Linked DNA regions of Homo sapiens: all the other regions are linked to region 2. Evidence: fine-mapped expression QTL. A gene starts in region 2. Each other region holds a variant in brackets. All regions are shown on one strand. Distances are between the middles of the regions.

The links. PIP is the estimated chance that this variant, and not a neighbour inherited with it, causes the effect. A credible set is the group of variants that fine-mapping cannot tell apart.
Region 1: its variant is the best candidate, but not a certain one, in a credible set for the expression of NUDT2 in monocytes (Fairfax 2014, PIP 0.72).
Region 3: its variant is the best candidate, but not a certain one, in a credible set for the expression of NUDT2 in whole blood (INTERVAL, PIP 0.63).

The regions. Positions count from the first base shown.
Region 1 is chr9:34,293,780-34,296,540 of GRCh38, forward strand. All of the region lies in intron 4 of KIF24 (kinesin family member 24), which reads right to left. Among named protein-coding and RNA genes, the nearest start is that of KIF24, 34 kb to the right of the region's middle. The variant TAGAC/T (reference allele first, on the strand shown) is at 1,415.
Region 2 is chr9:34,328,307-34,331,067 of GRCh38, forward strand. NUDT2 (nudix hydrolase 2) reads left to right here and starts at 1,263. Exons shown (of 5, transcript NM_001161.5): 1 at 1,263-1,293. KIF24 (kinesin family member 24) reads right to left here and starts at 962. Exons shown (of 13, transcript NM_194313.4): 1 at 800-962. RefSeq lists enhancers at 629-688, 789-888, 976-1,483, 1,019-1,208.
Region 3 is chr9:34,307,188-34,309,948 of GRCh38, forward strand. The region is part of intron 2 of KIF24 (kinesin family member 24); the gene reads right to left. Among named protein-coding and RNA genes, the nearest start is that of KIF24, 21 kb to the right of the region's middle. The variant G/C (reference allele first, on the strand shown) is at 1,526.

The sequences.
Region 1 (2,761 bases), 35 kb before region 2:
AACATGAAAAGAAGCTCAGTATCATCAGGCATTGGAGAAACTCAAATTAAACCTACAATGAGATTATTTAATACCCATTAGATTGGCTAAAATAAGAAAGCCTGACGATAGCAGATATTGCAGAACTACAATTCTCATGTTACTGTTGGGAGTATAAAATGGTACACTTTGAAAAGTTGTTTGACATTTTCCCTTTTTTCTCTTCTTTGAGACAGGGTCTTGCTCTGTTGCCCAGGCTGGAGTGTAGTGATCACAGATTATTGCAGCCTTGATCTCTTGGGCTCAAGCAACAACCTTCCAAGTAGCTGGGACTACAGGCATATGCCACCAAACCCAGCTAATTAAAAAAATTTTTTTTAGAGATAGGGTCTCACTATATTGCCCAGGCTGGTCTTGAACTCCTGGCTCAAATGATTCTCCCATCTCGGCCTCCCACAGTGTGAAATTACAAGCGTGAACCACTGTGCCCGACTGACACTTTCTTATAAATATAAACCTATCCTATGAGCCAGCAATTCCATTTCTAGGTTGTTACCCAAAGTAAATGAAAACATGCTCATAAAAAAAATTATACAAGAATGTTCTGGCCATCATGGAGAAACCCCATCTCTACTAAAAAATAAAAAATTAGCCGGGTGTGGGATTACAATCCCAGCTACTTGGGAGGCTGAGGCAGGAGAATCACTTGAACCCGGGAAGCAGAGGTTGCGGTGAGCTGAGATCGCACCATTGCACTCCAGCCTGGGCAACAAGAGTGAAACTCCGTCTCAAAAAAAAAAGAATGTTCATACTTTATTCATAAAGTCCAAAGCCGGAAACAATGCAAATATCTGTCAACAGGAGAATAGACAAAACAAAGTGTGATAATTTCATAGAAGGGAATATTACTCAGCAATGAAAACCACAGATACGTGTAACAACATGTACTAATATAAAACACCATTATGCTAAGCAAACATTATGTTAAGCATATAAGTATAATGATTCTATCTCTATGATATTGTAGAACAGATAAAACTAATCTATACTGACAGAAAGTAAGTCAGTGGTTACCTAAGACCTGGGGGTGAGGGTGGAGGATTAACTAAATAGGGACACAAGAGAACTTTCTGGGGTGATGAAAATGTTCCATGTCTTGTTACAGATATTTGTTACTCACGTATATAAAACTCTCAAAACTCATCAAATGTGAATACTTAAGATCTGTGCATCTTATTGTATGTAAATTATCCCTCAATTTTTAAAAAGTTGTTTGAAAAAACAGTCAAAATTCTCTGGAATCAGCAACACTAGCAGGCTACTTGGCATTTTCTATCATACATGCCTACAATTTTAATAGATAGGTAGGTAGATAGGTAGGTAGGTAGATTAGATAGGTAGGTAGATAGCTAGGTAGGTGGATTGGATGGATGGA[TAGAC/T]AGACAGACAGACAGACAGACAGACAGACAGAGGCAGGGTCTTGCTCTGTTGCCCAGGCTGGAGTACAGTGCAAGACCACAGCTCCTACAGCCTTGACCTCCTGGGCTCAAGCAATCCTCCCACCTCAGCCTCCCAAGTAGCTGGGACCACAGGTGCACATCACCATGCCTGGCTAATTAAAAAAAAAAATTTTATAGACCAGGCATGGTGGCTCACACCTATAATCCTAGCACTTTGGGAGACTGAAGCAGGAGGATTGCTTGAGCCCAGAAATTCAAGACTAGCCTGGGTAACATGGCAAAACCCCATCTCTAAAAAAATACAGAAATATTAGCTGGGCGTGGTGGCAGGCACCTGCAGTCCCAGCTACTCAGGAGGCTGAGATGGGAGGATTGCTTGAACCTGAGAGGCAGAAGTTGCAGTGAGCCAAGATTGCACCACTGCACTTTGGCCTGGGTGACAGAGTGAGACCCTGTCTCAAAAATATAAAATAAAATAAAATAAATATTTTTTGGTGTGTGTGGAGATAGGGTCTCCTTATGTTGCCCAGACTGGTCTCAAACTCTTGGGCTCAAGCTATCCTCCTGTCTTGGCCTCCCAAAGTGCTTGGATTACAGGTGCAAGCCACCACATGTGGCCCATGCCTATATTTTAAATACTTATGCAACAGAGGCCCTTACTATCATTCCTGTCCCATTCAACGTTTATTAAGTGTGAATAATAACTTAAAAATACATCTGGCCGGGCGCGATGGCTCACACCTGTAATCCCAGCACTTTGGGAGGCCGAGGCGGGCGGATCACGAGGTCAGGAGATCGAGACCATCCTGACTAACACAGTGAAACCCCGTCTCTACTAAAAATACAAAAAATTAGCCAGGCATGGTGGTGGGCGCCTGTAGTCCCAGCTACTCAGGAGGCTGAGGCAGGAGAATGGCGTGAACCCGGGAGGCAGAGCTTGCAGTGCACCGAGGTGGCGCCACTGCACTCCAGCCTGGGCGACAGAGTGAGACTCTGTCTCAAAAAAAAAAAAAAAAACATCTATGAGGCCGGGCGTGGTGGCTCACGCCTGTAATCCCAGTACTTTGGGAGGCCGAGGCGGGCGGATCACGAGGTCAGGAGATGGAGACCATCCTGGCTAACACGGTGAAACCCCATCTCTACTAAAAATACAAAAAAATTAGCCGGGCGTGGTGGCGGGCGCCTGTAGTCCCAGCTACTTGGGAGGCTGAGGCAGGCTGAGGTAGGAGAATGGCGTGAATGTGGGAGGCAGAGCTTGCAGTGAGCTGAGATCACGCCACTGCACTCCAGCCTGGGCGACAGAGCAAGACTCCATCTCAAAA
Region 2 (2,761 bases):
CTGCCGGTCACTAAGAAGCTAAAGGGAGATAAATTATCTTGGCATACAGCAACAGAATGGTTTATTTTAAGCAAAGACTAAAAGGAGTCTAATAAAATTATTGGGAGACCAAGGCTAAAAGCCACAGATGCAGGAAGAGTTGCAGCAACCAATCCAAAAAAGTTTAGCCTTTCACAAAGAGTAGAAAGGCCAGCTGTGGACTGTGTGTGGACTTTTAGGTCCTTTTGCATTGAAGATTAGGGTGGCCTCCCCCTAGCCTCGAAATAAAAAATCGTCTCTGAAGCAGAGAGACAACAAGGCAGGGCATGAAGAGGAATCCAATCTATTTCTTGTAAATTAAATTCAACTCAACAAATATTTCCTGAAAATCTACTATGTGCAAGACATTGTGAACGATGCTTGCCTTACCTCAAAGGCTTCAAAATTTTATGGGAAAAGGGAAGCGAACGGGCTTCCCGGAAGTAAACAACCCAAGGGCGAATAGAAATGCCCTAAAAGAGGTGCCGGTCAGGCTTATCGGTTCAAAAGCAAGAAGGCTTTGGGACTCAAGAGTTTAGTCTCCCAAAGTGAGAGAAGTGGCGTTCAAGATAATTGCTGAAGAAAAGGCAGAGATATGGGGATGAAAGATAGGAAAGTAGGTGAACTTTAGGAAGAGCCAAGAGGGGCCAACTCTCGGTTCCCTCACAACTGCCAGTTTCCTCCCGCGCTCAGCCGACGTCACGCGCACCCGTGTCCGCGGGCAGGCGCCACGGTTCCGGACCAGACCTACCCCTCCTCTATTCTCCCCGCCCTTTCTCACCTCGGTCCAAACTCCTCGGTCTGCCCTGTCTGAGAAGAGGAGAAGACAATGCCGTCGGGAGTGAGCCCCAAAGCCCGCAACCTAACAGTCCCGTCAACCCGGGAGCCACCGGCGGCGGCCAGGCCGCATCTCCATGGCAACGCCGCCAAGCGCCAGTTCGAACGCCCGCGCTGTGGCCCGCGCGTCGCCAGTCCCGCACCGCCCACCAATGGGCATCCAAGGAATCGGTTGACGTTCGTTGACTTCTCCTCTGGAAGACCAATCAGAGGTCTGAAGAAACCGTGGGCGTAACTCTCAATTTCCGACCTTCAGCCAATCGTTCCGCTTGAGGGAAGATCTCGCGACGTTTCAGTGTGAGACGCGCACCTTTGAGGCGGGTCGAAGATCCTTCTGCCGAATTCTATTGATGGGCCCAAGCGTAACCAGGCTCTTCTGATTGGCCGGTGTACTTCAGTTTCCGTCCAAGGTCCGCCTCCTACCTCCTTCTGCTTCGGGTGAGTACCCTTAAGGGCCCACTTGATTTTAGTTCTCAGTGGAGGAAATGAGCCTTGGAGCGATGGGAATCTGCCTCTGGCAAACCTCTGGTCGCTGCAGGGCCCGAGAGGGATGCGCCCTCCTCTAAGTTGGCAGTGAGGTGTGGGCAGGCCAGGTCCCATCCGCTCTCAGGACCTCAGTTTTCCTGTCTGCACCGGGAGAAGGGAGGTTCCCTGACTCTGAGCCTTGCTTGTCCCCGTCGGAGTGGGGATAGGGTGGGTCGTCCAAATCCCAGAGGCGGGAGAGGTCCAGGTTTAGGGCCCAGAGGCCCAGGCGCCGAACCTTCCCCTCCCTGGGCCTCAGTTTCACTTGTTGCTACCCATTAAACCCCGCCTGCTTTCCAAAAGAGATTTTATGTTTTCTAATTGCTTCAGTTATTGAATGGATAATATCGTGGCAGTTATAGCAGAAGTAAAGAAAGTCGAACAAGAGCCCCACCGCCTTAAACAAACAAACAAAAAAGGGACAGCGTAAACAATGCAGGCCGGGTGCGGTGGCTCACGCCTGTAATCCCAGCATTTTGGGAGGCCAAGGCGGGCGGATCACGAGGTCAGGAGATCGAGACCATCCTGGCTAACACGGTGAAACCCCGTCTCTACTAAACAAAATACAAAAGTTAGCCAGGCGTCGTGGCGGGCACGTATAGTCCCTGCTACTCGGGAGGCTGAGGCAGGAGAATGGCATGAACCCAGGAGGCGGAGCTTGCAGTGAGCGGAGGTCGCGCCACTGCACTCCAGCCTGGGCGACAGAGCGAGACTCCGTCTCAAAAACAAAACAAAACAAAAAAAAACTGAATGCAATCAAATTGTCAAATGTAAAACGCTATTATAGAGTTAAGGTTAAGATCATTGATGTTAGGAGTCAGGCAGACCTACATTTGAGTCACTTACCCAGACATCTCTGAGCTATAGTTCCCTTTCTACTCTTCTGAAAAATGGCAGTAATGCCTCAGCGGGTTGTTGTGAAGATTAAGTGAAATAATGAAGGTAAAGCACTTGACACAACGCCTGGCGAGTAGTAACTTCTTAAAAAATGGTAGCGGCCGGGCGCGGTGGCTCACGCCTGTAATCCTAGCCCTTTGGGAGGCCGAGGCGGGCGGATCACGAGGTCAGGAGATCGAGACCATCCTGGCTGACACGGTGAAACCCCGTCTCTACTAAAAACACAAAAAATTAGCCGGGCGTGGTGGCGGGCGCCTGTGGTCCCAGCTACTCGGGAGGCTGAGGCAGGAGAATGGCACGAACCCGGGAGGCGGAGTTTGCAGAGAGCAGAGATCGCACCACTGCACTCCAGCCTGGGCGACAGAGGGAGACTCCGTCTCAAAAAAAAAAAGGTAGCTATTATTCTTATAATAAGAACAGGCAAATACACTAGTCAGTGCGTTGGTGTACTTTTTGTAACTGAGTACCCAATTTTGCCCAAAATTAG
Region 3 (2,761 bases), 21 kb before region 2:
CCTAAGTAGCTAGGACTATAGCATACAACACCGCAGCTGGCTAATTTTTGTAATTTTTGTAGGGACAGGGTCCCACTATCTTGCCCAGGCTGGTCTTCAACTTATGGCCTCAAGCAATCCTCCCATTTTGGCCTGTCAAAGTGCTGGGATTACAAGCATCAGTCATCACGCTCAGCCTGGAGAATAATTTTTTTACTGGGATCTGAATTGGTTTAAAAAAAAAAAAACCAGCAAATAATTTTCTAATATAATGAATGCATAAAGCACTAATTTTATGGCATGTTTTAAAGCAAATTTTATTTTCTTAACCAACATTTAGGGACTTTAAAATGCATCATTTTTGCATGAAACTGCAGATGGAATAAATAAATGACAGAATAAATGAAATGTACCATTTTGAGGTACTGTGGGAAAATCGTGACAATCATTGAAACTGGATGACGGGCCAGGTGCGGTGGCTCACGCCTGTAATCCTAGCACTTCGAGAGGCTGAGGCGGGCAGATCACTTGAGGTCAGGAGTTCGAGACCAGCCTGGCCAACATGGTGAAACCCCATCTCTACTAAAAATATAAAACTTAGCTGGGCATGCTCACTTAAACCCAGGAGGTGGAGTTCACAGGTGAGATAGTGCCATTGCATTCCAGCCTGGGCAACAGAGCAAGACTCTGTCTGAAAAAAAAAAAAAAAAAAAGAAAAAAGAAAAAGAAATTGGATGATGGACATATTGGGATTCAGTGTTCTATTTTTTTCTTCTTTTGCATATGTTTGATTTTTCACAAGAAAAGGGAATTTTTTGTTTTGAGACAGGGTCTTGCTCTATCACCCAGACTGGAGTGCAGTGGTGCGAGCATAGCTCACTGAAGCCTCAACCTCCTGGGCTGAAGCCATCCTCCCACTTCAGCCAATAGTAGCTGGAACTACAGGTGCACACCATCATGTCTGGCTAATTTTTGTATTTTTGTAGAAACAGGGTCTCACCATGTTGCCCAGGCTGGCCTCGAACTCCTGGGCTCAAGCAATCTGCCTGCCTTGGCCTCCCAAAATGCCAGGATTGCAGGCATGAGCCACTGTGCTCATCAAAAATGAAAATTTTTAATGCTTTTTTTTTTTTTTGAGACAGAGTTTCATTGTGTCACCCAGGCTGGAGTGCAGTGGCACAATCTTGGCTCACTGCAACCTCTGCCTCCTGGGTTCAAGCGATTTTCCTACCTCAGCCTCTAGAATAGCTGGGACTGCAGGCACCTGCCATGACGCTCTGCTAATTTTTGTATTTTTAGTAGAGATGGGGTTTAGCCATGTTGGCCAGGCTGACCTTGAACTCCTGACCTCAGGTGATCCACCCGCCTTGGCCTCCCAAAGTGCTGGGATTAGAGGTGTGAGCCACTGTGCCTGGCCTAATGCATCATTTTAATAAGGGTTTTGTGTTAAAATCTTTAGTTGTTGGATATCAATAACCTAATCATATAAAGCTGATCAAAGAGGATAGAAAATGTTTGGTCCTTTTTAAAATTGTTCAGGGCTCTA[G/C]GATGACTCATATGAACAAAAGGCCCATAGTTTCAAGTTCAAGGAGCAAAAAGACATGCATGTTTTTTTAAAAAGCTCTAGTTTGGGCAGGGCAGAGTGGCTCTCACCTGTAATCCCAGTGCTTTGGGAAGCTGAGGTGGGAGGATCACTTGAGGCCAGGAGTTCAAGACCAGCCTGGGTAACATAGTGAGATCCCCAACTCTACAAAAAATTGAAAAATTAGCTGGGGACAGTGGTGCATACCTGTAGTCCTAGCTACTTGGGTGGCTGAGGCAGGAGGATCACTTGACCTCAGGAGTTTGAGGCCCCAGTGGACTATGACTGCACCACTGCACTCCAGCCTGGGTGACAGAGCAAGACCCTGTCTCTACAAATCAAACAAACAAACAAATAAACAAAAGAGTCAAATAAATGAAATGGTAATGGTTAAACTAAAATATCCATCCTATCCTTGATGGTGTTAAATAAAGTGGTATTTTTACTTATAAGTAATTCCAATTTAGATTTTTATGTACTGTTCAGTAAAAAAGTAATATTCAAGAAAATAGGCCAGGCGTGGTGGCTCACGCCTGTAATCCCAGCATTTTGGGAGGCTGAGGCGGGTGGATCACAAGGTCAGGAGATCAAGACCATCCTGGCTAACATGGTGAAACCCCACCTCTACTAAAAATACAAAAAATTAGCCAGGCATAGTGGCGGGCGCCTGTAGTCCCAGCTACTCGGAAGGCTGAGGCAGGAGAATGGCATGAACCCGGGAGGCGGAGCTTGCAGTGAGCAGAGATTGCACCACTGCACTCCAGCCTGGGCGACAGTGCGAGACTCCGTCTCAAAAAAAAAAAAAAAAAAAAGAAAATATTTACTCCTTCACCGCTGAGGTAACCAATGCAATAGCAACAATCTGCCTTCATAGTCAAGGAACAATCTATTCCTCTCAGAATTAAAAGAAGAAAACAGTATTACATGCTCTGTGATCTCCTAGACCAAACAAAATGTTTTCAGAAATATTATAATAAAAATTCACTTATGTATTTCAAATTATTAAAGATATTTTTACTGTTAAAACTGAGTCTTCTATTTTTATGGAGTAAAATAACTGATTATGAGATCTTCTGAAACCTTAGCCAATGTAAGACCAGATATAAATTCTTTATCTTAAGGTATGAATAACAGTATTTTTAAAAAGAAAATATGGCTCAAGAATGAATTTTGTTTGCCCATAACTCACATATATAATGT